7 linked regions of the Homo sapiens genome follow. The protein of the gene in region 1 interacts with the protein of each later gene in a biochemical or structural test. Each region holds a gene or a part of one and is shown in the gene's direction. Other genes may lie near its edges.

Region 1 (4,411 bases):
TTTCTTGGGGGCTTTGGAGACAGGAGCTCGGTGCCCCACCCTGAGGCCATTCTAGGCTGCACCCAGGGTTGGGTTTCCAGGGTTTAGAGGGGCCCATTGGCGGGAGAAGACTGAAATGTGAAGTGGGAATGAAACACTCATTCAAGGGAGGCATTTAAATGCTCAAAGGCGGCTAGAAAGATTAAAAAGAAAAAACCACAGCTCCAAGGAGTTGGGTGCTTTGGGCCCTTTCTGAAACACAGAAAGGAAAGAGGAGGATGGAGTCAGACAAGACAGACGTGGAAGCATCGTGCCTGGACTGCACTCTCCATGAGCCCTGGACTCTGGGCAAGGGTCTGAGGGTGCCCCCCTCCAACCCACCCAGGCAGGCTGCTCCTGAGGTGGGGTGAAGGCATCCGATGGCTCCTGATCATCCATAGGGTCCCTGCCTCCATCCTGCCTGAAGCACCTCCCTAGAGGAGGATATCAGCACCCCCAGCCCCCACCCTGAGGGATGTTGGACCCTACTCAGGGCAGCCAAAGGCCAGGCCAGCTGAGCCCTGACAAGCAGACACAGCTGCAGGGGAGAGGCACTGGGCAGGGGATCCAGCTCAGCCACTTCCCTCTGGTCAGAGGCTTGGCTACTGACCAGACCCCAGGAGGCTGAGCTCTCCCTTGGGAGCAAGCATCCCCCCGGCCCATACCTGAGGATGAGGGAGAGCCAGGCAGGTCTAGGTGAGGGGAAGTGAGGAGACCTGGTGGGGAGGGCTGGTGCCCGCTGACCCATGCCTGTGGGAGAAAGATGTCTCTGAGGCAGCTCCAGAGGGAGGACAGTCAGATAGCCCTGCAGAGGGCCCCTCTGATCTGGCCCCAGCCTCTCTTGGATATCATTCTGTTGCCCTTGCTCATGCTGTCATCATGATCTTCTGGACACAACTCCCATCTTTCCTGTCAGCATCTCCTCTGTGACCGAGGCCACAGCCTTTCTGCGTGGGGTCTGCAATGACCCAGCCCTGCAGGGGGACGACCCCTTCTCTGTAGATGGGCATTTGGGGGTGCCCTGCCGTGAGAGAGCCTTGCTGTGGGGGTGTCCTGCTGTGGGGGAGCCCCATGGGCAGTTCACTAGGACAGAACAGACATTGCAAAATTCGCCCTGGAAAGAAGTATGCTGGTACCTGCAACTTTCTTTGAAATGCCCGGCAAATGAGATGGATTGATGGATGTGGAGGGATGGAGTGTGATAAAGCAAAGCGAGTGAAATGTTATGGTACAGCCATGGTGGCGGGTGTTCAGGTATACACTTTAGAATGTTTTCTACTTTTCCTGCCTAGAAATCTGCAAAAATGTCTATAATAAAATGTTGGGGATCACATAGAGGAGTAGGGAAAGTTGATTTTCTGCAGGACAGGCCTGGCTGGGCAGCTCAACTTGCCCCCAGGAGTCCCCTCTCAGTCTAGAAAACTCTTTTGCTTTCCTTCACTGATGTTGGTTTTTACACTTTGTTCACCTCTACACTCAAGGCAGCAATACACTCCTGTCATTAATAGAGGCTATGGCAATGAGTCTGGGGGTAAGGGCTATGTGTATTTTAAGAAATCTCAAGTAGCTCTAAGATGCCCCTGCGGGGCCTGGAGGGCAAGCTGGACTTTGCAAAGCAGATGCTGTGGCTTCCTGGCAGTCCAGACGTCTGTTTCTATATTGTCCTTTCCTGTCTCTGCAGATTCCAGGGCAGGGGAAGGGGCGCTGTGGGCACAAGGTGGCCAGTATTTTAAGAGGGCACCACAGGCTGGGTGTGGTGGCTCATGTCTGTAATCCCAGCACTTTGGGAGGCTGAGGCAGGCCAATCACTTGAGGTCAGGAGTTGAAGACCAGCCTGGCCAACATGGTAAAACCCCCTTTCTACTAAAAATACAAAAATTAGCCGGGCATGGTGGCATGCGCTTGTGGTCTCAGCTACTGTGGGGAGACTGAGGCAGAAGAATCGCTTGAACCCAGGAGGCGGAGGTTGCAGTGAGCCGAGATGATGCCATTGCACTCCAGCCTGGGCATCAGAGCAAGACCCTGTCTCAAAAAAAAAAAAAAAGAGAAAGAAAAAAAAAAAAGAGGGCACCACAGCCCCTAGGGCTGAAATGGCAGGTTCACAGCAATTGGAGAGGGCTGTCCTGGTCTTGCCGTCATCACCCACGTGGTGTAGGGCAGTGTTTCCGTGACCCGTAATGTGGTCGTGCAGAAACAACTCAGTTCCTGGGCTGCATCTGCAGAGCCCATCTGGGAATGGGCTGGACACTGGTGACTGGTGACTGCAGGGCATCCTGGTTTGGAAGGGGCTTCCCTGTGAGGGGACTGGCAGGAGCTTCCACCCATGTCTGTAAGCCCAGAGCCTGGCCAGAGGCCCACCCAGGCTTGGCACCTGGGGCAAGGGACTGTCCCCAGAGCCTCTCTGGGCTCCTTCTAGGATGGTTCTCGGGCCTTGGCCTGAATCTAGCTTCTGCCAACACTAGGAGCTGGCTTGGTCCTTGGGTTATAGCCAGGAAGGTGACTGGGATGTGCCCAGAGAAGCCCAGAGGACTGGCTGGTGGGCATGTTTGGGAGGCAAAGCCAAGGAACACTTCCAGCCACAGCTTGTAGGGGGTGGGGTCCGGAGCCTCCTCTTTCCTGTGATGTCCCTGAAGGCCAGGCCTGCATGGCACTCCTCATGATGTCATGGGGGTTGGGGACCTCCAACATGGTATGGTGGGAGTCAGGTCATAAAGCCATTCTATGTGATATTAGCAGGGGCCAGCCCATTCCATGTGATGTCACAGAGGGTACAGCCAGAGTCTCTGGCATTCCATGAGGTATCTTTAGGGGTGGGGCTGCTAATGTCACTAGGGGCCAGCCATCAAGCCTTTTTAGGTGACATTATTAGAACCTCTGAAATTTTGCATCTCATGTGATATTACTGTGGGCAGGGCCACCAAAGCATTCAGTGTGCTATTACTGGAGGCCGGGGGTGCAGAATTTGGCATCGTGCATGATGTCCCCAAGAGTGCAGTCTGAGCCACGATGACATCCCAAGTAATGTCCCAGGAGGTGTGGCCTTCCTGAGATTCCATGGGGAATTCCCGGGATGGAGTTGCAGTGGCATTCTGTGTGGTTACACTGAAGATGGGGCCTCCAGACTGTAACATTCTGTGGTATTATCGGGGCTCAGGGTTTGGGAACTGGCCCCCGCACCTGCACCCTGCCTTCTGGAGGTATGACATCAACTACAGAACCCTAAGCCCTGCCCCATTTCCCAGCTGAGTTTGCTCATCCAGGCAGGGTTGTCGGCTACCTCACTCTCTCCACATCTGCCAGGTAGCACAAAGCACCTGGCACTAAGATGCTTTTGAGTGGGTGCATTTATCCTGCCCTTCAGCCTGGCAGTGTCTCTGGGATGCTGCTGTGTCTTAGCTGCTGCATCTCCCTTTTCTCCTGGAGTCTGAAAAGTGCTCCATAGCTTTGCAGGGTGCAGGGGTTATAAGAGGCTAATCAAGGTTACAAATAGCCTGCAGTTTTTTGTTTGTTTGTTTGTTTTTAGACAGAGTCTCGCTCTCACCCAGGCTGGAGTGCAGTGGCATAATCTTAGCTCACTACAACCTCCACCTCCTGGGTTCAATCAAGAGTTCAAGCGATTCTCCTGCTTCAGCCTCCCGAGTAGCTGAGACTACAGGCACATGCCACCATGTCCAGCTAATTTTTTTTGTAATTTTGGTACAGACGGGGTTTCACCATGTTGGCCAGGCTGACCTCAGGTGATCTGCCTGCCTCAGCCTCCCAAAGTGCTGGGATTACAGGCATGAGCCACCACACCTGGCCACCCTTTTTTTTTTTTTTTTTAAGACCGAGTCTCCCTCTGTCACCCAGGCTGGAGTGCAGTGGTGCAATCTCAGCTCACGGCAACCTCTGCCTCCTGGGTTCAAGCAATTCTCCTGCCTCAGCCTCCCAAGTAGCTGGGACTACAGGCGCCCACCACCAGGCATGGCTAATTTTTGTATTTTTAGTAGAGACAGGGTTTCACCATATTGGCCAGGCTGATCTCGAACTCCTGACCTTGTGATCCACCCACCTTGGCCTCCCAAAGTGCTGGGATTACAGGCGTGAGCCACCACGCCCAGCAGATGCCTGCAAATTTTTAAGAGACAGAGTCTCCCTCTGTCACCCACGCTGGAGTTCAGTGGTGAGCGATCATAGTTTATTGTAACCTCAAACTCCTAGGCTGGAGTGACCCTCTCACCTGCCTCCTGAGTAGCTAGAACTACAGCCATGCACCACCACACCCTGCCAAATATTTTTATTTTTGTAGAAACAGGGTCTGGGCTCCTTTGCCTGGGCTGGCCTCAAACTCCTGGCCTCAAGCAATTCTCCTACCTCAGCCTCCCAAAGTGCTGGGATTATAGGCATGAGCCAC
Region 2 (4,998 bases), on another chromosome or scaffold:
GGCGTGAACCCAGGAGGCGGAGCTTGCAGTGAGCCAAGCCATAGCACTCCAGCCTGGGCGACAGAGTGAGACTCTGCCTCAAAAAAAAAAGAAAAGAAAAGAAAGAACTTAAATATGGACAATGTTTGCATTACTGAGCAATTTTTCAGGGTCTGCAAAGGGCTATCCCTGCCCTAGTCTCCTGCCCTTCTGACAACCTTCCTATGGACCTTTTCCCATTGAGAAATGGAGCTGAGGAGACAGAATTGAAACTCAAACCAGGCCAGAGCTCACCTAAGAGGGGCCATTTCACTCCTTTTCAGCCACCAGCCCTTTACATTCCTTCTCCCTGGTGACCTCATCAGAACCTTCTCATGAGAGGTCAGCTATGATGCAAGACCTTATAGAGGCCAGATGGCATTGAAATAACACCTTGCAGCTCCCTTACATGTGAATAATTGCCCATACTGAGAGACTAAAACCCTTAGGACTTCTGGGACCTGAATGAGGCAATGGTCTGAAGTGGGCTTGCGCTGGAAGCAAGACGTAAGTGGTGAAGGTGAGTATCAGGGCAGCAGGTTGACCCCTTTCTTGTTATGAGCATGCATTCCTTCATTCTTACTAATACGGGTTAGGTGCCTACCCATGGCAAGAGCAGTTCTAGGCAGGGAGAGGCCCCTACCCACCCACAGCTGACGGTCTAGGGCTTGTTTACATTCTAGGTTTCAGCGGGAAAGCAAGAACACCCAACTCCCTGCTTTTGATTCTATGTTAGTAGCTCAGCGCGCCTGTGCGAGCACGTGCTGCAGCCAGGGTAGGGGCTCAGAAACTGGTTGACAAGATGAGCAGTGGGGTCCTAGGGGGTTGGGCGGGAAGGGCCCACAAGGCCATATTCCAGGCTGTTCGGCTGCGAGTGACCCCTGAGAGGTCGGGATCTCCGAGCTCGTCCGATGTCTCCATCCCAGCCAGGAGCTTGCGAAGGGGAAGGAGGGCGGAAGCAGAGTGGGACAGATGTGGTTCGTTCTGGGGCTTCCTGTCCACGAAGATGGATAATTCTAGCGACCCGCCTGGGATTTTGGAATCCTGGCGGACCCAAAAGACAGCAGAAGTCACCGCAGAGGATGCCACCCCGCACGGCAGCCCGCCCAGAGCGACGGTCTCACAGGTTCCGGCGCCGTCGAGCGCCCAAGCCTCCTGTTGGCCGCCAGCTGTGTCCGCGACGCGCTGGGTCGGGAGGAGGAGACCCGAGGCGCCGGTAAGTCCCCCGCTGCAGGTGGCCCGGAGGGCAGGGGTGAGGACGGGGACGTGTACTGAACTTTGGGAGGTTTGCGGGGCTGGAGTTTTGTTTCAGAGATAGCCAGATCGAGATCAGAACGTTTTCCAGAGAGCCCAGGTTTCCACTTGTGGCTGGGCGACCCGGTCCGGAATTCATCCTTTCTCGGCCCTCAGCTTCCTCCGGGCGGGGTTCCGATGGGGCAGCTAAGTTCCGCGCCTCCTGCCGGTGCCAGATACTGGCGTGTCGACCCGCGCTGCGGTTGGCTTCTTGCTCCACAGCGCTATGCGCGCGGCGGCTCCGAGGGCTCCTGGTCTCTCTCAGCCAACGGCCTTCTGGGGCCGCCGCCTCCCTCTAGAGCTGCTCGGGTCCCATTGCAGAGAGTCCCGCAGCGCCCGCCGGCAGCCACGGCACTTCGCAATAACCAACTTCCCCGCCGCCGGCGCGTCCCGCCAGCCTGCCCTCGGCCGCAGGCGACTGGACGGCGGTTACGGGGCGGTCCCAGCGCCACCACGACTGGCTGTCGGCTCCGCCAGTCATGGGCTGATGACGCCCCGGGGCTGGCTCCGCCCCTAGCGGCAGCCCCGCCTCCCCTCCAGAGCCTGGTCGGCTTAGCCCTGCTTTCCGCCTCACTCGTTGAGCAGGTCCGTGAATTGTCAGCGCGCTGTGGGCGACTGTGTGGCCGCGGCGGCCGCCAGGCTTGCCGCACTCCCCCTGAGGTGCCCGCCGGAACCAATGTGCCCTGGTCCACTGGGCCGTGAGCAGCCACCGACTGGGGGCAACTTGGCACTTAGAACCGCAGCAGGGACGTCGGTTTGCTATCGGGACTCGGCGAGGACGGTGAGTGGCCGCGCGCCGGGCTAGCGGCTCCTCTCGGCGCGGTTCGGCGGCGGCGAGAGGGGACGGGACGCGTCCTGGCGCTCGGCGGTCCGTTCGTCCGAGCGTGACCGCTGTGGGGAGGTCAGGGCTGGGCGGGATTTACTCCGTGCCAATATCCCCACTCCCGAACTTCTTCTTGTCAAAGCATCCCAACTCCGCCCGGGACGCGGTTCCAGTCCGCACCAACTTGGCGTAATTGACATGGGTAGGTGGGGCCGGGACGCGTCCCCTGCCCCTCTGCGGCAACGACATGGAGCGCTGGGGCGGCCTCCGCGCCCGCGGCGTGCGGACCGCGGTTCCTGAAAAATTACCCGCGCTGTGCGGTACGGTAAGACCCGGCGTCCGCGTCTGGATCTCAAGGCTGAGCGAGCGCTCATCGGGCTCAAGGTGGGTCTCAGCGCCAGAGAACTGGAGTACCAGCCGGGTTCTGTAGCGGGGGCTTCAGTGCTCTGCAGCTACTGAGAGGAATTGAGAGCACTGCTGGGCTTTGAACTTTCTAAAGTAATTGCTTTCTATTAGCACTTGAATCCATGACCCTCCTGAGGTGCTCGGACCTCCACATCCACCCGCAAGGGGTGTCCGAAGGACTTCGTTAGGACCAGGCGGGAGCTGCTGTCGGTTCTGGTGCCCAGTGCCTTGGAGAATCCTAGAGGCTGCGAAAGGGATTGCCAGCCTGGTCGGTTGGTGTTTGTTTGAGCACCTGCGTGTTTAAGTGATGAAGTTGAGTCAGGAATTGACAGCAGAGAACTCAAGGTTAAACCTGACACTCCGTTTGTGACTCGGTCTGGGTTAGATTGTTTTCCCCCCTTAATGGTAAGGGGGTAAAAGCAGCTTGTTTTTCTGAGACCAACTACATGCATGTAGTTTATATTATGTGCGGAATAAACAGAATTCAATACGATATTTTCTTACAATTCTTATTTGACATGAATAAGAGCTTTTGAAAATACTAGACAGAAACAGGTCCAGAATTTGGGGATGTTTAGACCTTTGAAAATACATGAAAATGTTGAGATATATAGTTCTGTATGTGTATATGAAGATGTAGATGCGCATATACACACATACATACGTGTATATGTGTGAGTGTGTGTATATATAAAATTAAAAGGTGAATGAGGTAAATATATGAAGGGGAAATTCAGCCTTGAACTTCCCTTGGGTCACAGAGATGGATCCTCTGAGCTGTGGGGTGTTAGTGAGTGTGTATGCGTAAGCATGTCTGCATCTGCCTGGTCTGTCTGGGTCAGAGTATGTCCATGAACTTTACGAGCGTTCAGTTCAATACCACTCAGTGCAGAATCCGCGTTCCTGTTTTACAGCCCAGCAGCCGCCAGCCGGCCCATCTGTTAAAACATAACATGTACACTTCAGTCCGACCACTGGGGTGGAGCCTGGGTAGGGGGCAACTCTTAGCAGAAACAACATGCTACAAACAAAGCCTGCCTCTCAAGTTCTATTTTCATTCAATATTTGGCCTGAACTTGAAGTTTTGGTGAGGGAGAAGGAAGTGTTTGTCTCTAGAAATGGCAAACTGCATTTTGTGAAATAATTATAGCCACGGCTTGGGGAGGGGGAGCTTGTAGGAGAGAAAAAAAAATCCCTCCAGAAATGTGGTGCTTGTCACATCACCATGCAACACGGGTTTACAGCTTTGCAGTATGGCATGTATATCAGAAACTGTTTGCTTTTGCTTGTTAAAATAATGCATTAAAACTGAATCATTTTGCACCAAAAAAAAAAAAAAACCTACCTTAATAGAAGTAAACAGAGCTTTATTGCAGAGGCTATAATTAAGACTGCCTTGGTATTTCTAATGAAACATACTTTTAGGAATTTATAACCTGGACATATATTCATAGTCAGTCTAATCACTAGTTGCAATGATTCACAATTTATAGTTTTAAAATAATAAAAAGGCTTTATCACAAAAATTCTGATGACTAAAAGGGTATGGGAGGAGTATAATAGCTTAATAAGTTCTTGCAGCCAAGTGACTGATACTTTAAAAAACAATAAATTCCTTTAATAGCACAATTACTTTAGTGACAAAATAAAGGCAGTATTTTTGAGAAGCATAGTTCATATTTTTCCCAATAATTTTATGCTCATAATTACATTTCAATAATGGTGTTCATTATATATGGGCGGAATAAACTGAATGGTTTTTAAGGGCTTATCACAAGAAGTATTGTTTTCAATTTTATGGTATATAAACATTTTGGGGAAAACATGCAAAACACTAATCTGTGAGTGTCTTTAAATTTCTAATGGACAATGTAGACATAATAATTTTCCCACCTTGATATGAATCATCCAAATTAACTAGGCTGTTTCTTAGAAATTCAGTTCTTGGGCAGGACTTCAGTCCCAGGGTTTCAATTTAGGAGTCTGGGATGGACCTTAGGAATCTGCATTTTCACAGGCACCCGCAAGTGATTCTGATGCCAGGGATCCCTTCACTGTACTTTGAGAAACACTGGAATTGTGTTAATGACATAAAAGAACAGTTATAGTCTGTGAGTTGATTTAACAAATAATTGTTGAGAAATGTCCAGGTGGCATTTACTGGCCTTGTGAAATTTATAGGTAATGCATTAACTCTCTGTCTTCAACAATGGACCCCTTTTGTCTTACATCTGAAAGTGTTTTGGAATCCTCAGCTATCCCTATTCCAGGTTGGCCCTGATTCTAAGGAAGTCTGCCTGATGAAACAAGACCTGATGAATTTAAGACCCACCCCACAAACCCCAGTCTTAGTTCCTTCACCCCCCACTCTGAGTTCGGTGGGGTCCTGGGATGCTCTGGGGTGACTTTGCCAGTCCTAATTCACATGGTTGAGCATTTCCTCCTGCAAGGTAGAATCC
Region 3 (4,411 bases), on another chromosome or scaffold:
CTAAGTAGCTGGGAGTACAGGTGCACACCACCACACCCAGCTAATTTTTGTATTTTTTTTTTTTTTTTTTTTTTGTAGAGACAGGGTCTTACTATGAGACCAGACCAGGCTGGTCTCAACTCTTGGTTCAAGTGATCCTCCTGCCTTGGCCTCTCAAAGTGCTGGGATTACAGGCATGAGCCAACCCCCCAGTCCTCCTTCATACTTTAAATCATCTCTAGATTATTTATAATACCTAATATAATGTAAATGCTAGATAAATAGTTGTTATTCTGTATTGTTTTAAAATTTATATTTTTATTGTATTTATTGTATTTTATTGTGTTTATTGTATTGTTATCTTTTTTCCAGTGGTCAGTTACTAGAATATTTTTTGAATATTTTCTAACCTAGGTTTGTTGAATCTGTGGCCATGGAACCTGAGATATGGAGGGTTGGGTGTGGAGGGGGGTGACTGTGCTTACTACTATAATCCTGCTTTTGATTAGTTTTCCACTGGCCATGTACTTAAGGGTAAGGTGGATGCGTCCCCTGCCCCAGGGAGTGAATTTTGATTAAGCCATCAATTTTAGTAATGCCATACCTTTTGCCAGTGACTCATTAATGAATATGTATGTGACGCCTGTTAGGTCCTGGCATATTTGAAGCATAAGGTTGTCAGCACAAGAGAACAAGTAGCACCGAGTGCAGACTAAAGGTGGCCTAAGACCACAATTACTTTTTTTTTTTTTGTCGGTGTCAGGGGTGTAGGAGGCGGGCGGGTAGAGACAGGGTCTCACCATGTTGCCCAGGCTCGTCTCGAACTCCTGGCCTCAAGCAATCCTTCCACCTCAGTTTCCCAAAGTGCTGGATTACAGAGTGAACCACCATCCCCAGCCCACAATGACTTATTTTAGCTGCTGATTAGCCAGCCCTAGAACCACTGTGACTCAGAACTTCTGTGAGAAAAAACATTTTCGTTATTGTTTCTTTCTTATCTTTTTTTTTTTTTTTTTTAAGCTAGGGTCTCACTCTATCACCCAGGCTGGACTGCAGTGGCATGATCATGGCTCACTGTAGCCTCTGCCTCCTGGGCTCAAGTGATCCTCCCACCTCAGCCTCCCAAATAGCTGGGACTACAGGTGTGCACCACCACACCTGGCTAATTTTTGTATTTTTTGTAGAGATGGGGTTTCCCCATGTTGCCCAGGCTGGTCCCGAACTCCTGGGCTCAAGGGATCCTCCCACCTTGGCCTCCCAAAGTGCTGGGATTACAGGTGTGAGCCACTGTGCCCAGCCTCATTATTGTTTAAGATCAGTGGTCCCCAGAGTGGAGTGTGCTAGATCATCCAATATGGGAGGGAAGAAAATATTCAAGAATGTTAGAAAAAATTAAGCTTTTAAAATATTTAATGTATGAGTTGACACTGGTTGGTATATCTGGTAGTCTTTTATCAACTTACATTATATGAGGTTGCCTGAGGGAAGACTGGGCCTTTTACAACCTGGTGGAATTGACAGTGGTACCCTCATTCTTATTCTTGCCTTTGGTGAACTCTATCCATCTAAATACATTTATGGCTAGATTATCTGGTTTTAACTAAACTGACCCCCAGAAAATGGGCGAGTGGTTTAAAAAGATTCTTGCAAAGAAAGTGTAATGATAATGATATAAGTATAAAGGAACAAGAAAATGTTCTTATGAGTTTAGAACATGACTTTTAAAACAAATTTGACAAGAAGGTGGCTCAAAAATTATGTATGGGCTGAGCGCGGTGACTCATGCCTGTAATCCCAGCACTTTGGGAGGCCAAGGCGGGCAGATCACCTGAGGTCAGGAGTTTAAGACCAGCCTGGCCAACATGGTGAAACCCCGTCTCTACTAAAAATACAAAAATTAGCCAGGTGTGGTAGTGTACACCTGTAATCTCAGCTACTCGAGAGGCTGAGGCAGGAGAATCACTTGAACCTGGGAGGTGGAGGTTGCCGTGAGCCAAGATTGTGCCACTGAACTCTAGCCTCGGCGGCAGAATGAGACTCCGTCTTGAAAAACAACAACAACAACAACAAAATTATGTTTGGATTTGTATTATTAATAAAAATGAACTTAAAAATACTGTTTGACTCCCATCCTTTAAAAGTTTTAAATGTTGTATAATGTATATACTACATTCATGTGTGTGTATACATACCATTCATAACTAGTTTTAATTACACATAAATTAATACAATTTATAATATGTTAGTATATATGTTATAAATTTTTTCCCCTGAAATTCCTGAGCTTCAATACGTTTTTAAAATTTTTTACTTTTTATTTTTTTAGAGGGAGTCTTGCTCTGTTGCCCAAGCTGGAGTACAGTGGTGTGATGATAGTTCACTGCAGCCTCCAACTCCTGGGCTCAAGTGATCCTGTCCCCTCAGACTCCCAAGTATCTGGGACTACAGGTGTGCACCATCACACCTGGCTTAATTAAAAAAAAATTTTTTTTTTGAGATGGAAACTTTCTCTGTTGCCCAGGTTGGAGTGCAGTGGTGCTGTCTCAGCTCACCATAGCCTCTGCCTCCTGGGTTCGAGTGATTGTCCTGCCTCAGCCTCCTGAATAGCTGGGATTACAGGTGTGCACCACCACACCTGGCTAATTTTTGTATTTTTCATAGACATGGGGTTTCACCATGTTGGCCAGGCTGGTCTCAAACTCCTGAGCTCAAGTGATCTGCCCGCCTCGGCCTCCCAAAGTGCTGGGATTACAGGCATGAGCCACCGTGCCTGGCTAATTTTTTTTTTTTTTTTTAACTGATAGTCCTGCGTGATCAAAAAAGCTTTGATACCACAATTTAAGTCACTTAGAGTTAGGTATTTTTGTTACTTGCAGCTGAAAGCATCATACCTGATATAAGGACAGATAAGAGTAGTAGCTGTCCCTGTTTTATTCTTAGCTTTCAAGAATCTCTGTGATCTGGACCCTAACTTGTTTGCAGGCCCAGCTGTCCTCTCCTTGTCTCTGCTAATACCACTGAACTCCTGCCCGTCCCTGATACTTTGTTTCAATTTTGCCTCTTCCCTCACCCTACCACCACCACTGAAATTTTGACTTTCAAGGGCTAGCTTAAATAAATATTGCTTTCTTATGAACATTTTTTCTGATTTACTCCCGCTTCCACATTTCAGTTTTTCTTTCCTTTTAGTCTCCCTAGTACATTGTACATTCATTATAATGTCTTTCTCTGTTTGCTTTTTATTATTAAGTTGTTCGCCTATTGGCTTTGCAGATGGGTTGTAGGCTTTTTGATGGTAGGGGGTCCTGTCTTACCTTTCTCATTTAAAAAGAAAACAATCTGTTTCTCCTTTGGGAGAAAGGGAGACAGAGAATCCACAGTTGTTAAACATCACTCTGGACTTGTTACTCTGGGGTGGGTCTCGCCTCCAGCCTTCTGGCAGCCTTAGGAAGGCAGGGAGCTCCATGTACATGAAAGGAGATTGAGGGCAGGGAGCTCACAGAACCAAGACAGCAGGACCCAGGATTCAGACCTGGAAAATTTTTATTTCCTGGCTGGTTTGTGTGCCCTCATGCATGTTATTTACAGTGCCATGTTCTTTCACATGGGAACACTGACACAGGTGAAATGGGAGGTTCCATAGGATGATAGTGCAAAAACATTAAAGACAATCCTAGCAGATGCAGTGAGTTCAAGGGAGAGTCCTTGTGGAGTAACACGAAAGGCCTGGTGGATGAGATGTATGAAGATCTAAATGCCTGCAGATAGTGAGCTGTCTGCAACTACCACAAAGCAAAATCATGGGCGATAACTCCCCAGGGTAGGATCTGGCCTGAGCATCCCCACTGGGAGATGGGAGGTGATGGGCTCTGTAGTGCTTAGCTGAATAGAGTTATCTATGTCAGTATTCCCTCTATGCAAAGATAGTTGAGAGTTCACAAGTTGTAGGCTTTCAAGTTGAGCTATGTTAGATATATGCTCCCCTGATGGAAGACAGACATGTCTCCAGGGTTTTGAGGGTCAAATGACAGAATGTATATAAAGTGTTTTGAACATTATAAATTGCCTCCTTAGAGGCAAGGGAACATCAAATTTGGTTGTTTTCTTGCATCAGAGACTTCTAGCTCAGATTTCTTTGTTGGCCATTTTTAAGGGCATTTCCAATGAGTTTTTAAGTGTAATGAGTTTTTAAGTGTTGGGGTTCTTAAATGGAATATGATATAATTTTTTTCAGATGAACTGCAGATATTACTTAAAATCTTGCTGTGAAACTTTCACCTGTGGAGTAAGTAGAATTCATGATTAAGGTGAATCTCTTTTGGGATCCAGTTCAGTTTTTCCAAAGGATCTGTTTATAAGCATAGGACCACTTAGCTGAGTGTGGTTGCTCATGCCTATAATTCTAGTACTTTGGGAGGCTGAGGTAGGAGGA
Region 4 (3,832 bases), on another chromosome or scaffold:
AAGTCAGCTTAGTGGAGATTTAGCTATGCCAGTGAGCAGTGATTTTAACTATTCTTGGCTGCTTAAACAGGGCAGCTATGAACTATGACAAATGTAGATTTTTCAAAGCAATACAAAATACTAAAAAAGAGGAACCTTAATGAATATTAACCACACAGTCTTTCTTAGCCATTCCAAAAAGAGGCAAAGCAATTCTTATTTTCTTTTTTAAAATAATGATTAATATGATTTTGTGCACTTCATACTGTCACTTTTTAAAACTACAGAAAAGAGATTTAGAGTATAACAGAAACAAGTGTGCTTTGATAGTCTCAAATAGGTAGAATTCATAGTTCAAGACCTGAATCCACTGTCATCTCTTTCTTCCTCCCATTGCAGCTATCCTCAGGTACCAAATGTTTTGATTTTTAAATAAGGATAGTAATAAATGGAGGAGGTGTCCTATAAATTTAAAGTTCAGTTGACCCAGCCTTATACTTAAGATAGCCTTATGAAAAATATGTGCTGTGAGGCAGAAGTATATTTTGGCAGAGAGAATAATAAATAAAACTTTTTCTTTTAGCTCAATATCCTTACTTTGGTAAGTATTTTTTTTTATTTCACATCTACTTAACAGAAAATAAACTGAGAAATAGAAGTCAGTCCATTGGCATAATTTATCATTCTTCACTTTAAAAAATTCTAATAAATATTCTGCTTGAGTTTTCTTTTCTGCTATTTGTTCTTACTTGCAACTTTAAGTCAAACCTCCCAATACAAAACATTAAAAGCTAACATTAATGTACTAAAGTATTAATTTAAAAGAAATCGAACCTCCCATGCTAGATTTGAAAATAACATCATCACAGCACCCTGATCCCAAATATTACACCGAGGCTTTTAAAATGTAAGTGAAATCTAGCTAAGTTTCATGGTTTCATTAAAAGCAAATGTCTGCCTCTATCTGAAAAACAAATGGAAATCTTTTGAGGTGTTAATACCCTTTGGATCCTCATCAAAAGGATGGCATTCACCTGAGGATTCCTATCTTGACTTCTTAGGTATTAAAAACCTTTCTTGATATGCTCTACATTTTAAAATTTGTTTTATAAAATCCTTATGTTGATTTTCATTTTATTCTCAAGTACAATACGTTTCACTCTAGACCAGTTGAAGAACATGTTTAAACTTTGTTCATGGTCAAATTCATTTTCTATTTTTTTAGTAACATATCTCTTAAAAAGCACACTACCTTATAAAAAACTTCATCAGAAATTAAATTTAATGCAAGTAAATTGCCATCTGATACTTCCACATGCTATCATAATCAACTGTAATAATAAAAATGATTTATCCAATTAGAAAAGGACAAGATATATTTTTCTCTGTATTTCTATAACTTTTGCCACTCCATTGAATACATTGTATGTTGGACATAAGATTATTAGTAATGCATTCTTGAGATCTTTTATTTTGGAATGATGCTAACTCTGTCTCTTTGCCAATTCTAATACCAGGTTCCAAGTAATAACTCTACAGTACAAAGAGAACTGAATATTCATTCTAGGGCTATAGGATATGAACTTCACAATTCATTTGGGTACATTCTCATTGAATTTCCTTCAAAACAATCTGTTCCTGGTGCCCAGTGATAATTCAGTCGGGACCAGCATGACTAAAAGGAAGGGGATATGCTAAGGCTCAGCAAAGTGACCCTAAATGAGAGATATGTCCCAGGATGGAAAGAAGAAGACGTGGTTTAACCAAGTTATACTGACTAATCTAAGCAGTCCACTCATCCTTCCATTTTGGGAAAGGAGTGGGGGCAGCCTAAGAAGAACATATCTGGATTGGGAAGAACCGTCTTTCTGGGCTAGGGATGGGGAACAGAAAGGGAGTATGGAAAGAAAAATTATAAGAGATTTGACTGAAGCAAGGAAAAAAAGCAAATCCCCAAACGTGCTAATCCTTGAAAGTAACTATCTTTCCCAAACTACTGCTGTTACCAGCAAGTGATCAGGAAGACTAGGAGCTATTTCTGACTGTAAATGAATTGTATAATAGCTCTGCTGCAGTTCTGTGACTTCCAAGCCAGGAATTAAATGCTCTTTTTAAGAATAACAAAAAACAAAAGCATTTCCTATGCTAGTCTCCCAGTAAAATGTACATGTTTTGGAGACTTCAAAGGTATTATGTGAGTTCACATTTAGCAACAGCTTATTAATAACCCTCAAGCTGTCAGAATCTCTATAGTTACCATTTACAATTTTATACTGTGAAAAAATACAGATCAGTGAAAGCATAAAGACAAGTCAGAATTCACTTTGAAGAGGGTCTGAGGCCTGGGAGAGTCTCTACTGTCTATTGAAGAATGAGGCATGTATAAAATAGTTGGTTGAATTTCACTGATCTTCCCAATGTGAACAAATATACTATGTATATTGTGTGTATTTCTAGAAATCAATGGCAGCTGCTGATGGTGTTGTAATTAGAAATCTATATAGATTATAGATGTTTTAGAAAGATGGTGCCAATCCTAAAAGATTTGTGTGGGCTAAAAGTGCTTGTACTTACTTTTTTCTGCACTTATAACTGATTTGGTTTTAAAATTGTGTGCGTGTATCTGTTCTTTCTCTGTTGTGGCAGCTTGTACTATTAAAATAATAGAGAATGTTAAATTATTTTGATGTGAACTGCAAATGATTTTTTTTCATAAAGTTTAACATTTTTATCAGCATTGTTTTGCTTTGTACTTGTATAAATATGTTTTATTTTAGCACTTCAAAATATACTTGCCTGTTTCTCAGTTGTCTAAATCATGTTGTACTTGGTGTTTGTGAAGCCAGTTACTTTTCAAAAAAATTAAAAAACCTATAATATGATTTTAAGATTATTCCCCTCAAATGTTTAGAATGTTGTCTTAATAGTGTTTTCTGAGATGAAAAGAGCCATGATACTAATTAATCTTGAATACTGGATGATCTATACATTTGAATTATGGGGTTTACAAAGTAAGCAGTGGACTGTATAGATTTAAATGAAAATATAAACCAACCACAAACCAACCAGAGATGTTGTCCCCAAACACATCTACAAACAACTGTTACATAAAGAAGTACTTAAAAAAATATATAGGAAATATGCATTGTTTATGCATCTAGACATACAAATTATAGAAATAGTTTCATAATTATATGTGTTGATAGAGGTAACATCACACAGATAAAATAGATTATTTGTGTGTGTATAGATGTGTGTTTACAAACATACATATTTATATAGACATTTGACTTTTGAGTCCATCTGCATGTGTCTCTGTGTATATGTGTGTTTGTGTGTAGATGTATGTGCATATTACATAATTTTTCCAGAAAAAAAAAAAGTTTTACTTTGACTGATTCTTGAGCAAATATACATTCCCTGGACACAAATTAGTGAAAAACTAACAGCAGAATATAAGGTAGATGCTTGATGTATGGAAGAGAAAAACAAGGTATATTTAAAAATATATTTGATTTATGCTTCTGACATTGTATTAAATGCATAATGATATATATACATATGTAGATACATATATTATACAGAATGTGTTTGATCTTAACAAAGAAAGCCATTTTATCTGTTTTGTCAGACTCTTCCCTTCAGTATCTTTTATTCTAACGTGATATGAATGGTAATATGTTCACATAAAATTGAGGATGAAGTGACATATACAAACCAGGTACAGGAAATTACCTTCTAAAAATCCAAAGAGCCTTATCAGACTCCATCAAATTATGGAAGGCCATTTAAAACCAGCGGATGCAATAGAAATAGCATTGAATTAAAAGCCAGGATCTCTTACCTGTCACCA
Region 5 (4,411 bases), on another chromosome or scaffold:
GACAGGGTCTCACTGTTGGCCAGGCTGGAGTGCAGTGGTGCCATCTCGGCTCACTGCAACCTCCACCTCCTGGGTTCAAGTGATTCTCCTGCCTCAGCCTCCCCAGCAGCTAGGATTAGGATTACAGTCATGCACCACCACGCCCAGCTAACTTTTTTTTTTTTTTTTTGTATTTTTAGTAGAGACTAGTAGTTCACCATATTAGCCAGCCTGATCTCAAACTCCTGACTTCAAGTGATCTACCTGCCTCAGCCTCCCAAAGTGCTGGTATTACAGGCATGAACCAGCACACCCAGACGAGTTTTTCTTACTTAGGTGAAAGCTCAAACCTTTGCTGATACTCACCCTATCATGCTCCACCTTACCCCCCAACCCCCACTCAAGCCAAAGAGAACAAGATGACCAGAAGGGGCCCTAAGCCTTGGAGAGTGGAAAAACTGTGTAAGGTGATACTAAAAACAAGAGGCAATGCAGGCTTGCTCATTTTCATCCGTTTACTCAAAGGCCATTTAATGAGTACCTTTCAAAACTGTTCTGGGCAGTTCCCCTGGGCAGGAGGGGCCCCTGCTCTGGGCTCCACCATTTAGAGAACCCTACTGAGGTTGGGCACAGTGGCTTATGCCTGTAATCCCAGCACTTTGGGAGGTGGAGACGGGAGGATTGCTTGAGCCTGGGGGTTCAAGACCAGCCTGGGCAACATGGCAAAACCCTTTCTCTACAAAAAATACAAAAATTATCCAGGCACAGTGGCATGCGCCTGTACTTCTAACTATTCAGGAGGCTAGAGTGGGAGGATGACTTGAGCCTGAGAAGTCAAGCCTGCGGTGAGCCGAGATCATGCCACTGCACTCCAGCCTGAGTGAGTGACAGGGCAAGATCCTGTCTCTATTAAAAAAAAAAAAAAAAAAAAAAAAAAAAAGAGGATCCTACTCTGGCCCTCCTTTGGCCACACCCCTTTCCCCGGGGCAAAGAGCCTACAGGGCCAAGAGGATATGCCCATCCAGATGGCAAGGACCCCCTCACTGCCACACTATACTATAGCTATTCAGGATCTCTTGCCCTAATGGTTCTGAGTCTGCTTCTGGGGTCTGTGTGGGCCTTTTCCCTGTTCCATCTTCCCAAGGATGGACCGCAGTGTGATATGACCACCTCTAAGCCCAAGGGGCAGCCATTCGTGAGGGGGATGGGAATGGAGCTTGGATATGCAGTCAGCATTGTCCACGCCTGTGCACATGAGGCCCCTCATGGTGCAGACCTTGGCTTCAGGCCAGCTCTTCCAGTGCCTCCTCATTCTGACTCGGGACTCCAGGGATTTGGAGAGTTACAAATGCAAACCTGATCTCCCAGGTTGTTTTGAAGGTTTATTGGTCAAAATATTAAGAGAGAAACTATTTAATAGTTTGTTAGCTGATTTATAATGTTTAAATATTTAGACATATAGTACGTGGATCTCTTTGTACTCTTGCCCTGGGCCCCCAAAATGTAAGATGAAGGGCTGGTTCATAGTGCCCTAGGCTCCCAGTTTTCTCTGAGCTTCAGAAGCTCTAGAACTTTGGAGTGGCATGTAAACAGGCACAGTAAGTGGTAAGTATACCCTAAGAGTTTCGTACCAAGTACAAAAGGACAAGAGTTTTCTGGAGTGGTTGAGAAAGGCTTTCACCAAGAAAGTGATATTTGCACTGAGTCTTAAAGGATGAGTAGGCCTTTGCTAGGAAGAGCAGGTCATTCCAAGTGAAAGGAACAGCATTTGCAAAGGTATGAAGATGTGGAACCCTGTGTATTATTGGGGTGGGGGCAGATGGGAGGGCGTGGGTTGCAAGTGTTTGCTGATAGAGGAAGCATTCATTCAAGCACCCATAACTATACCCATCCCATCTTCCATCTCTCACAGGCTCTCCCCTACATCATTAGTTTTCTGCTTTTCTGTAGGTGACACAGGCCCCAGGAGGCTGGGAAGTCCTGGCTGTTGTGGTCCCTGTGCCCCCCTTTACCTGCCTGCTCCGGGACCTGGTGCCTGCCACCAACTACAGCCTCAGGGTGCGCTGTGCCAATGCCTTGGGGCCCTCTCCCTATGCTGACTGGGTGCCCTTTCAGACCAAGGGTCTAGGTAAGGGATGCATAGAGCAGAGCGGGTGGGCAGGGCTGGAGCCGGGAAGGGGGCCGTGTTGGCTGGAGTTCTGAATGGTGCTGGTAGAGATGGAGGTTCAGGCATCATTCGGCAAACATTTACTGCATATAACTACATACCACCTTGTAAGTAGTTCTTGTAGGTGGAACAGATAAGCAAACTGGAAAAGATCAGATAATGTGGTTGATAAAGAGTGTCCCCAGGTGGTTAAGGAAACCCCCCCTAAAAAGGTCTGAAGGATAAAGATCTGAAGGATCTGGGATCTGAACGATAAAGAAGAAGCCATGTAAATATCTGGGGGAAAATCACTGCCGGAAGAAGGCACAGCAAGTGCAAAGACCCTATGACAGGAACTTGCTTGGCAATTGCAAAGAGGCTGGCATAGCTGTGAGAGGGGAGTGGTAAGGGGTGAGGCAGAAAGGCAGTAACCATGGTGATGAAGAGCAACACTGCCGAGCTGGGGTGCTGCCTGTCCTGCCCATTGCTTACCCCTCCCCCAGCACAGTGGGTGAGAGCAGTCAGAGCTGGGAGGTGAACCCTTCCCCAGTTTGTGCCTCTCAGAGCTGTTTAGTTCTTGGGAGTTGATTCCAAAGGTCTGCATGGAATTATGATGGTGGGAAGGGCAGGGGTCTTAGCAATCTTCTCTCTTTGGCTGCAGCCCCAGCCAGCGCTCCCCAAAACCTCCATGCCATCCGCACAGATTCAGGCCTCATCTTGGAGTGGGAAGAAGTGATCCCCGAGGCCCCTTTGGAAGGCCCCCTGGGACCCTACAAACTGTCCTGGGTTCAAGACAATGGAACCCAGGTAAGACAGAACCCTCCCCTCTCTCCACTCTCCTGGAGTATAAGCCTTCAGGGTTCTAAGGCCTTTAAGAATTTCAAAATGATTGTCTTTGGTGGGCCTGGGTCTCCCGCAGCCCCAGGGAATCCTTTCCTCCTCACCCTCCTCTGCAAGCTCCACTTCTCAAAGGATTATGTCTCCTGTTAGGGTTGCATCCTGTGTGCACTTTGTAAATAAAGCAGGAAGCACATTCCTGCTTGAGCTGGGGGAGGGCACAGATAAGGCTTTGTCCCCAGCTCAGTTCGCTCCCATCCCCCACCTGTGCATTCCGGGACTGAGCCTTGTTTGTGTTCTGGAGAGGCCCCTGCAGCCGGGAACAGGAATGTGATTACTCCCAGAAGGTTGTGTTCCTGCAGCCCCTGAACCCACAGTGCCCCTATACTCCCATGTTCCCAGCTGGACCTTTTTCTGTCCTCAGGCCCCAGCTGGAGGCCTTCTCCCCAGGCTCACTATGGGGTGGGGGCTTTTCCTGGCTGCAGGATGAGCTGACAGTGGAGGGGACCAGGGCCAATTTGACAGGCTGGGATCCCCAAAAGGACCTGATCGTACGTGTGTGCGTCTCCAATGCAGTTGGCTGTGGACCCTGGAGTCAGCCACTGGTGGTCTCTTCTCATGACCGTGCAGGTGAGGCTTGTAGGTGGAGAGGGGCAGAGGCTCAGGGGATCAAGGTTTTCAAGGGCAACCTAGACTGATGGGAGGAGCCTAGTAGCATCTCCCCTCCTAGTAGACCCACAGACAGAGTGAAGAAGTTGAGGCCAGGGCTGTTTAAACTATCTTGGCTGGGCATGGTGGCTCATGCCTGTAATCCCAACATTTTGGGAGGTTGAGGGATCGCTTGAGGCCGGCAGTTTGAGACCAGCTCTGGCAACATAGCAAGACTCTGTCTCTACAAAAAAATTAAAAAAAAAAAAAAAAAACAATTAGCCTGGTGTAGTGACATATGCCTGTTAAGCCCAGCTGCTCCAGAGGCTGAGGCAGGAGGATTGCTTGAGCCCAGGTGTTTGAGGCTGCAGTGAGCTATGATTGCACCACTGCACTCCAGCCTGGGCAACAGAGTGAGTCTGTTGTCTCTAAAGAAACAAACAAATAAGGCCAGGAGTGGTGGTTCACACCTATAATCCCACAACTTTGGGAGGCTGAGGTGGAAGGATTGCTTGAGTCTAGGAGTTTGAGACCACCTTGGGCAGCAAAGTGAGACTTTACCAAAAAAATTTAAAAATTAGTCAGGTGTGATGTTGCACACCTGTAGTCCCAGCTACTTGGGAGGCTGAAGTGGAAGGATTGCTTGAGCCCAGGAGGTTGAGGCTGCAGTGAGCTGCAACTGTGCCCCTGCACTCTGGCCTGGGCAACAGAACAAGACTGTGTCTCAAACAAACTATATCTCATTCTCCTCTCTCTGCCCCAGAACTGGCATAGAAATCCATGGTCACCCTCTAGGTCACA
Region 6 (4,174 bases), on another chromosome or scaffold:
GGTTAAGCTTTTTTTGGTTGGCATCACCAAATGACAGGAGGGGAAAAAAGAGCTGGACATTAAGAGGAGTTGGGGCAAATGGAGAAGACACGAGGGAGCTGGGTAAGAACAGGAGCTAGGGAGGGGGGGAAATGGACTGGACCAAAGGGAGGTGGGAGCCCTTAGGAAGGAATAGAAGGGAGGGTGCTGGGAGTAGGGTTGTGGAATGAGAAGAGGAGAGGGAAGCCTGGAGCTGAGATTCCCCCTGACCGGTGCCCCTCCTCCCAGGAATGACATGCCAAGCTCGGAGCTCCTACCTGGTAGACGAGGTGCTGTGGGGCCACCGCTTCACGTCAGTGCTGACTCTGGAGGACGGCTTCTACGAAGTGGACTATGCCAGCTTTCACGAGACTTTTGAGGTGCCCACACCTTCGTGCAGTGCTCGAGAGCTGGCAGAGGCTGCCGCCCGCCTTGATGCCCATCTCTACTGGTCCATCCCCAGCCGGCTGGATGAGAAGGTGGAGGAGGAGGGGGCGGGGGAGGGGGCGGGTGGGGAAGCTGGGGCTGACAAGGAGCAGAATGGCTGCCTGCCACCCCCAGAGAGTGAGTCCAAGGTGTGACCAGCTTCCTCCAGACCCCTGTGGCAGACCGGGGGCCAGACACAGATACATGGGGAACTGCATATCGGAGGTGGTGGAGGAGGAGGAGGAGGAGGAAGGCAAAGCCCCTGGAAATGTGCTAAAGTTGGAAAGTCCCCGTCCCCCAGAACCTCAAGTCTAGAAACCAGTATGGAAGGGAGGGGTCCTGATTTCAGGGAAATGGAGGGTGGGGCCGGGTGAAAATGCCAGTCTGTGTTTGACCTTCACATTTGTTCATGAGTGGATGGATGGACAGAATGATGGACTTTTGGGGGTTGGATGGGAAGATGGTAGCAGATAAAGACAGCTGACAGATACATAGATGGACCAGTAGACAACTGGTCCACTCAGGGCTGCCACTAACCTGTAGAACACCCCTGTGCAAATTTTAAAAAGGAACCCTTTTCCTCCAGACAGATACAGCCCCAAACCAGGGTGCATGGCTTGGGGAGCAGAGTATAGGATGGATTGCAGTCCCCAGTCACCTCTTCTGCCAGCCTCCCCACATATGGCACAACTGTCTAATGACACGGTAGGCCAAGCTGAAGTGAAGGAGAAAGGAGCCGGACCAAGATGGGCACATGAGGAGGGTGCCCTCCTAGCTCCACCCTCACCAGGATGAAGGCGTGCAAGGGGCTCAGCAAGGTGTGAATGACCTTAGTCCGCAAGTTCAGGGAAGCAGGCAGAGCGGGGAGGTGCCTGAGCTGGGGCCTGGAGAGGGGCCTGGGAAAGGAAAACCAGGGATAGCTATTTTCTTACAGTGGAGTGAGATCTTACAGGTATCAGGCACAGGCAGGAAGAGAGAGAGAGAGGTTCTGGGGAGGAAGGGCCAGGAGAGAGATCTAGAAAGTGGGTTCACTAGAGCTGGGAAACAGGGAGCCCCTAGGAAAGCAGTGTGTCCTTGGGGCACAGTCATTCACATCACTGATTGGGTGCCATGTGGAGTGGACATTCAAAAACCTGGTTCCTGTCCTCAAAATAAGGGGCACCTGGGAAAACAGAGGAATCTACCTGTGGTGACTGAACGAGGGATAATTCAAACTGACAACCTGTGCAGTCCCGTGGAGGGTAGGGGAGTGTGGGTGATCAGAAGGCTGGGGCCAGTGTAAGGCATAGGGAATATGTAAGTCAGGAGTTAGAAATCTCCAGTGTGCGTTGGAATCACCTGGAGGGCTTGGTAAAACACAGATTTTTGGGCTCCACTCCAAGGGTTTCTGACCCAAGAGGTGGGGACCAAAACCATGCATTCCTAAGAAGTCCCCAGGTCATGCTGCTGTTGCTGGACTGAGGACCACACTTTGAGAACCTGTGCTCTAAGTGAATACTTGGAAGTCGTTTCAGGACATGGGGCATAGAAACTGAGGAGTAGCTGAGAGGAAGATGAAGAGAAGCTGAGAAGAAGCTGAGGATCCTCACAGGAGCAGACAGAGAAATGTGAAGGGTGGGGTTTTATGTGTGGGAAAGGGACCCGAAGCCCAGGCTGAAGAGTTTAACTTTGGGCCCAGAAACTCAACCATCAATGGAAACAGGGCAGTGACAAGTGGAGGGGGTGTCTGGAAGCTGAGCAGGCCCGACAGAGAGATGAAGCCATCAGAAGGACTTGAGGGGGCTCCTGGGGAGGTCGGGGGGAGGTGGAGCAGGAAGAGTTTTAGGGGCAAAGGACAGAACCCCTTGTAGGACTGGAGGCAAGATTGAATGTGGGAGAAAATCGGAGAGAAGCGATAGGAGTTAGAACATCTGGATGTGTCTGCAGCCTGCTGTCAGCCCAATTGGGCCAGGGGGTCCCAAAGACGCATATTCTCACCCCACCTCCACCTGCTTCCTGATCACATCCCAGTCACCAGCGGCAGCTTCCTGGATAGTGAGGGAGAACAACTGCAAGTTGAGAGAGGCAGAGGGGTGGAAGGGACCTGAAGCTGGCCTGGAGAAAAGCATAGGCCCAGGAGAGCCTGCCCTGGGACAGCGCCTGTCTCCCACACAGCAGCACTGGCCCAGCAAGGACCTCCTCCCTTGGCCCTGGCCACATCCCACTCCTGCCCTTTCATAAGCCCCCTGGGGAAAGCACTCCAGTCTTCTCTGTTCCAGGCTGGGCAGATAGGGTCCTATGGGGCACAGCCAGGGTCCTATGGGCATAGCCAGGGCCCTATGGGTCCTCTGGAAGCAAGAAAGGGGGCCATGGAAGCAGCCCAGACAGCTGGGGTTCACTCAGAGAGGACCCAAGTCCCAGTCCCTTCCTTTCAGTCAAAACACGGATATCTTTGCCTCAGGTCACAGGGCCACTGGGGCCCTGTCATCAAAGATGAGATTCCTGAAGCCTGGCATTGACTGGTCCCCTAAGAACAGATGTTGGGATGGAGAATGGGGATTCATTTGGGTTTCAGTAAAACAGGGGGGTCTGGACAAGAGCGGGTGGGCTACTTGGTATCCACACACACGCACTCACACAGGAGCCAACCCATTGCAGCTGAACAAGCAGAGAAACTCAGTCTGGAAAGGCCCCTCCTGCCTGCTGAAGTCACTGAGACCCTGCCACACCTCTCCTCGCCACTGTCACCACTCAGGGCACCACTGTACAGTGCAACAAGTCAGGAGACCTAGGTCCTACTCCTGACACTTGCTAATTAGCTCTATGACTCTGGGCAAATCGCATATCTGGGCCTCAGTTTCCTCATCTGTAAAAATGACAGCAAACTCGTAATGCTCAATAAATGTTTAAATAACAACTGAAGGAGGCCTGCCAGATGCCTCTTAAGGTGCCGTGCAGGTAAGAATTTTAGGATCAGAGAATCCTTAGGCAAGAAAATTCATGAAACTCCTGGGGCACTGGAGGAGGGGTGAAGCTGAAGGGTGGGAGGGAGGAGACCCCAGGGTAGGTACAGGCAGGTGAAGCGGGTATATGCAGGTGTAGTGGGTATATGCGGGTAGAGGGTATATGCAGGTACAGCGAGTACATGTGGGTGCAATGGCTCTGTGGACACACAGGCCCTCCCCTGACTGCCTGTTGTCCCAGCCTGAGTATCAGTTGTGTTCTGAGGCTTCTATTCTGCTGCTATGGGTCAGAAGGAACAACAATTTCAGCCCCAGGGCCTAGTGGGAGGAGTCAGGTCCAAGACTAGCCTGACCAGGAGAATGAGACGTGGGAAGAGTTGGGGAAAGTCTGGGAAGCTCAGAAAAGGCACTGCCCCTGGAGGCCCATGCCCTTTAACATGGGAGAAGCTGGTGCGGGGGTGACCACAGGCAGCTGGAACCTACCCTCCTTTTCTATGCTTCCCTCCCCAAGTAGGAGTCCAATCAGGAGTTGTCTCAGCCCCGACAGTTCAGGCTGCAGATGGAACCCAGGTGTCCCCTCCTGGGGTGGGTGGCATGGCCCATGGAGGCCAGATGGTGTTTGTGGTGGGAAGAGAGGCCTGGGTCATCCAGAATAGGTTGTCAATCCCCAACCACCTCCCTACTATGCACCCTGAGCGTTTTACAGTCTCATGGTAGGGAAGACACAGCCAAGCCTGCTTTTTATAAAACAAGTTTATTCACATTTTAGAAAAACTAATTCCAGGACA
Region 7 (4,411 bases), on another chromosome or scaffold:
GACAATGGAGACCTAATTCTTATTATACAATCTTTGGTGGTAAGAATAATCTGCTGGGTACTGGGCATTTTAATAGACCATTTCTTCATCAATTCATGGCACTGTAAAAGAGAAACTAAGATGTACAATTTGTACCAGATGTTTCTAAATTGCTACCATTTCTAATAGTCATCAAATATGCCACAGGTAAATACAGCCCTAAGGCCTCTCTTCATTGTTATTACACTATCAGATCAAACAGTAGATTCTGTGGTTTCAAATTTGATGGCTAGGCTGGACGCAGTGGCTCACACCTGTAATCCCAGTACTTTGGAAGGCCGAGGTGGGTAGATCACCTGAGGTCAGGAGTTCAAGACCAGGCTGACCAACATAGTGAAACCCCATCTCTACTAAAAATACAAAATTAGCCAGGCGTAGTGGCACATGCCTGTAATCCCAGCTACTCGGGAGGCTGAGGTAAGAGAATCACTTGAACCCAAGAAGCGGAGGTTGGTATAACTGAAATACCACATCTCTGAATATAACTATATACATGTTCACACCACCACTATAGAAAAACGTCAAAAACTTAATTTGGATATTTTTATTTATTTATTTATCTTTGAGACAGACTCTCACTCTGTCATCCAGGCTGGAGTGCAGCGACGCGATCTCGGCTCACTGCAACCTCCGCCTCCCGGGTTCAAGCGATTCTCCTGCCTTAGCCTCCTGAGTGAGCTGAGATTGGGCCACTGTACTCCAGCCTGGGCAACAAGAGTGAAACTCCATTGAAAAAAAAAAATTGATGGCTAAACTATATTTGTGCAAAATGAAAAGCAATGATAATATTTACGCATAGTTGTTACCAAAATATTCTTGTAGAAGTAGATCAACCTCAAGGGGAGATGTGAATGATCAGGATGCAATCCAGGAGAAATTTTACCCACCACGTTTCATTCAAGTGCCAGAGAACATGTCGATTGATGAAGGAAGATTCTGCAGAATGGACTTCAAAGTAAGAGAAGGGTTCAAAAGTACTGGGGGAAAATTAACAATGGGATACTAAGTTTTGAAAAATGTTCTTTTCCTACTTCATAGCTTGCAAAGCAGTACGTACAATGGACAAGAACACAAATTCTGAAGTCAAACTGATGTGGGTTTGAATTCTGGCTCTGCCATCCTCCAGCTAAGCAACCTTAGACAAGTCATTTAACCTCTCTGTGCTTTTGTCTCCTCATCTGTAAAATGGGATAACAAATACCCCAAAAAATTATGAGGATTAATTGAGTGGATAGGTATACCTAATAAATACTTTTATAAGTGAAGCTATCAGAACAATATAATTTTTAAAGTACAATGCCCTTTTTTTTTTTTTTGAGACAGGGTCTTGCTCTGTCACCCAGGCTGGAGTGCAATGGCACAATCGCAGCTCACTGCAACCTGTCTCCCAGGCTCAAGCCATCATCCCAACTCAGCCTCCCTAGTAGCTGAAACTACAGACGCGTGCCACCATGCCCAGCTAGTCTAGAACTCCTGGGTTCAAGGCGATCCACTCACCTTGGCTTCCCAAAGTGCTGGGATTACAGGCGTGAGCCACTGTGCCCAGCCTTAAAGTATAATGTCTCTCCAATTCTCCTCTATCAAGAAATTCAAGCCACCCTGCTTTCTCTTGGCCTAAAAGAGTCCCTCAGACTAGAAAAGCTCTTTAGAAGAGGTTATATTTTTATTATCCTTATTTTGGAGAACTTTTCCTTATAAAATTTTTTTTCCAGATTCCTTATGAACTCAAGTTAGTGTTAAAGCTTTGGATTCCACTGTTAACAGTTTATGTAAAAACACTTAACAAATTGCCATTTATATGCCAAACTATAGCTCAAGAACACTCTGTTTTAGAAAAATTACGCATTAGATCAGGAAGCCTCATATATATGTGCCTCTGGGACTTCATTTGCAGTCACATTTAGCCAGAAAAGCAATGACTTCTATATTCCTTATGGAAACCAATGTAACATAAATTAATGTTCTAAATATAGAAATTAAGAGTTCATAAAGAGACTGAGGTTGCATGTAAAAGAGTTATGGTTTGAGACAGTCTAAAAATACTATGTTAATTTCAAGGATCTTATTTCCAATGTTTTGTTTAAAAAATTATAAATACTTTTGAGCTCTTGCTTTGCATTTCAATCGCAAACCCACTCAGATACGGGAACTGTTTAAATTCATATATGGACAAATAGGTTTCAGTGATGCAATACTTTAAAATTCTGCCATCTCCTTGTGTTTTTCTTTCTAGGTGAGTGGACTGCCAGCTCCTGATGTGTCATGGTATCTAAATGGAAGAACAGTTCAATCAGATGATTTGCACAAAATGATAGTGTCTGAGAAGGGTCTTCATTCACTCATCTTTGAAGTAGTCAGAGCTTCAGATGCAGGGGCTTATGCATGTGTTGCCAAGAATAGAGCAGGAGAAGCCACCTTCACTGTGCAGCTGGATGTCCTTGGTAAGCCTCCAAAGAGACCCTTGAGAATTCCTTAAAATCCAGAAGTATTGAAAAAAAGAAAGTATTTTAAAAGAAAAGCCCAGCAGACTTCATATTTAAGGTTAATGTCTATACAACCTATTGGAATGTCCATTTTTATCTACAAACCACAGGAAAAAATATATATATATACACACACATACATACATATATAGATATGTGAAGGAAAGTCAGTGAAACTAGAATGACAGATCTATCACCAAAGCTTTTCTGGAAAGAAAATAAATCATACAATTTTAGACAAACCAAATAATGAAGCATAAGCATTTCTAGACGTAACTATAGAGTCTCAAAATGAAAATCTTAGTCTAATCATTTCTCTGGTCTTTGTTTCTCCAAAATGAGGATAATAAAAATAACCAATCTGACTCACAGTATTACAGAATTATCATAATCTGTCAAACGTTAAATACATAGTTTAAAAGTGAAGAGTAGGCTGGGTATAGTGACTCAGGCCTGTAATCCCAACACTTTAAGAGGCGCCAAGGTGGAAGGATCACTTGAGCCAAGGAGTTTGAGACCAGCCAGGGTAACAAATAGCAAGATCTTCTTTGTCTCTACAAAAAATAAAAAAATTAGCTGGGCATAGTGGTGCACACCTATAGTCCCAGCTACTAGAGAGGCTAAGGCAGGAGGATAACTTGAGCCTGGAGTTTGAGGTTTCAGTGAGCTATGATTGCACCACTGTACTCCGGCCTGGGTGACACAGTCAGACCTTGTTTAAAAAAATTTCTTAAAAAATCAAGAGTAAATATCAACTTTTAGCCTTAGACTATGTCCTTTTTACTAGGAAACTAATGTCTAATTATAACCAAAACAGGCCTACTTGCTTTAGAAAACAGGTATGGCTACATTTATGTCTCAAATCTGTCTTAAGTAGAGCAGTTCTTATAAAACTGGTGTCTGGTTTTTAAATTTTACACTTTAAGTGCTTTAAATATACAAGTTGAGTATCCCTAATCCAAAAATCTGAAATCTTTAAGATGCTCCAAAATCGACATGACACACAAAGGAAGTGTTCATTAGAGCATTCTGGATTTTCAGGTTAAGAATGCTCAACAAGTATAACGCTAATATTCTAAAATAAAAAAAAAATCAGAAATCCAAAACACTTCTGGTCCCAAGCATTTCAGATAATGGATACTCAACCCATACCATATTTTTAATACTTTAAGCCATTGTATATTGCATAAGAGATATTTTGCTATAATTCACTATTTATTATACAGAAGTTTGATCAGGTTAAAGGATAAACTATTTTCTTGAGTTTATATTCTACCCAGATCAATACAAAATCTTTAAGATTATTCAATAATATACCAAAGGGCCTCAATCTCAGGGGAAAAACTAGTGGGCTGGAAATTTTCAAAAACACATACAATTTAAGTGATTAAAGTTTAGACAAATCCTATTTGTACCAATGGCTTCAGAAATACTACAATAGTAGAGCTGAAAGAGATCTTGGCTGCCATCCGTTTAATCTCATTTCTCCTTCAGAAAAACCAGGGTTATGGTACTGAACTATCGTTTCCTGTCTCCCCTCAGGTAGCTGAAAATAAGGTCATAATAATTACTGATATTCCCACATTCCTTCAGAGTTTACAAAGTATCTCTTTGTTTATTATCTCATTTGTTCCTTACAATTATTTTGTGTGGTAGACACAACAGTCACTACTACCGGGATTTTTTTTTTATAACAATAGATAAAACTGAGACTCAGAGAAACTAAACAAAATTTTACCAATTTGGCATGGCTCATGGAGCCAATAGGTAATTTGAACCCAAGCTGTCTGATACTCTTTCCATCACTCATGCTGCCTCCCTGTAGATGAGATGATAAAGAATATAACTTAAATTTGGGCCAGGCACGGTGGCTCATGACTGTAATCCCA

Evidence for each region.
Region 2: the proteins of LDB3 (region 1) and MARCHF3 interact in a test that uses a peptide from one of them, tested with the Homo sapiens proteins (one large-scale study listed by IntAct).
Region 3: the proteins of LDB3 (region 1) and TANC1 interact in a test that uses a peptide from one of them, tested with the Homo sapiens proteins (one large-scale study listed by IntAct).
Region 4: the proteins of LDB3 (region 1) and GRM5 interact in a test that uses a peptide from one of them, tested with the Homo sapiens proteins (one large-scale study listed by IntAct).
Region 5: the proteins of LDB3 (region 1) and TYRO3 interact in a test that uses a peptide from one of them, tested with the Homo sapiens proteins (one large-scale study listed by IntAct).
Region 6: the proteins of LDB3 (region 1) and KCNJ9 interact in a test that uses a peptide from one of them, tested with the Homo sapiens proteins (one large-scale study listed by IntAct).
Region 7: the proteins of LDB3 (region 1) and MYOT interact in a test that uses a peptide from one of them, tested with the Homo sapiens proteins (one large-scale study listed by IntAct).

The regions. Positions count from the first base shown.
Region 1 is NC_000010.11:86,674,518-86,678,928, forward strand, and holds part of LDB3 (LIM domain-binding protein 3), read left to right. Parts: intron 1-4,411. UniProt on the Homo sapiens protein: May function as an adapter in striated muscle to couple protein kinase C-mediated signaling via its LIM domains to the cytoskeleton.
Region 2 is NC_000005.10:127,027,444-127,032,441, reverse strand, and holds the start of MARCHF3 (E3 ubiquitin-protein ligase MARCHF3), read left to right. Parts: upstream 1-1,883; 5' UTR 1,884-2,092; intron 2,093-2,136; exon of another isoform or gene 2,137-2,518; intron 2,519-4,998. UniProt on the Homo sapiens protein: E3 ubiquitin-protein ligase which may be involved in endosomal trafficking. E3 ubiquitin ligases accept ubiquitin from an E2 ubiquitin-conjugating enzyme in the form of a thioester and then directly transfer the ubiquitin to targeted substrates.
Region 3 is NC_000002.12:158,974,856-158,979,266, forward strand, and holds part of TANC1 (protein TANC1), read left to right. Parts: intron 1-4,411. UniProt on the Homo sapiens protein: May be a scaffold component in the postsynaptic density.
Region 4 is NC_000011.10:88,503,605-88,507,436, reverse strand, and holds the end of GRM5 (metabotropic glutamate receptor 5 isoform a precursor), read left to right. Parts: 3' UTR 1-2,795; downstream 2,796-3,832. UniProt on the Homo sapiens protein: G-protein coupled receptor for glutamate. Ligand binding causes a conformation change that triggers signaling via guanine nucleotide-binding proteins (G proteins) and modulates the activity of down-stream effectors.
Region 5 is NC_000015.10:41,565,431-41,569,841, forward strand, and holds part of TYRO3 (tyrosine-protein kinase receptor TYRO3 isoform 1 precursor), read left to right. Parts: intron 1-1,929; coding exon 1,930-2,107; intron 2,108-2,786; coding exon 2,787-2,932; intron 2,933-3,447; coding exon 3,448-3,592; intron 3,593-4,411. UniProt on the Homo sapiens protein: Receptor tyrosine kinase that transduces signals from the extracellular matrix into the cytoplasm by binding to several ligands including TULP1 or GAS6. Regulates many physiological processes including cell survival, migration and differentiation.
Region 6 is NC_000001.11:160,087,219-160,091,392, forward strand, and holds the end of KCNJ9 (G protein-activated inward rectifier potassium channel 3), read left to right. Parts: intron 1-267; coding exon 268-599; 3' UTR 600-3,345; downstream 3,346-4,174. UniProt on the Homo sapiens protein: Inward rectifier potassium channels are characterized by a greater tendency to allow potassium to flow into the cell rather than out of it.
Region 7 is NC_000005.10:137,881,112-137,885,522, forward strand, and holds part of MYOT (myotilin), read left to right. Parts: exon of another isoform or gene 1-861; coding exon 862-994; exon of another isoform or gene 995-2,272; coding exon 2,273-2,480; exon of another isoform or gene 2,481-2,510; intron 2,511-4,411. UniProt on the Homo sapiens protein: Component of a complex of multiple actin cross-linking proteins. Involved in the control of myofibril assembly and stability at the Z lines in muscle cells.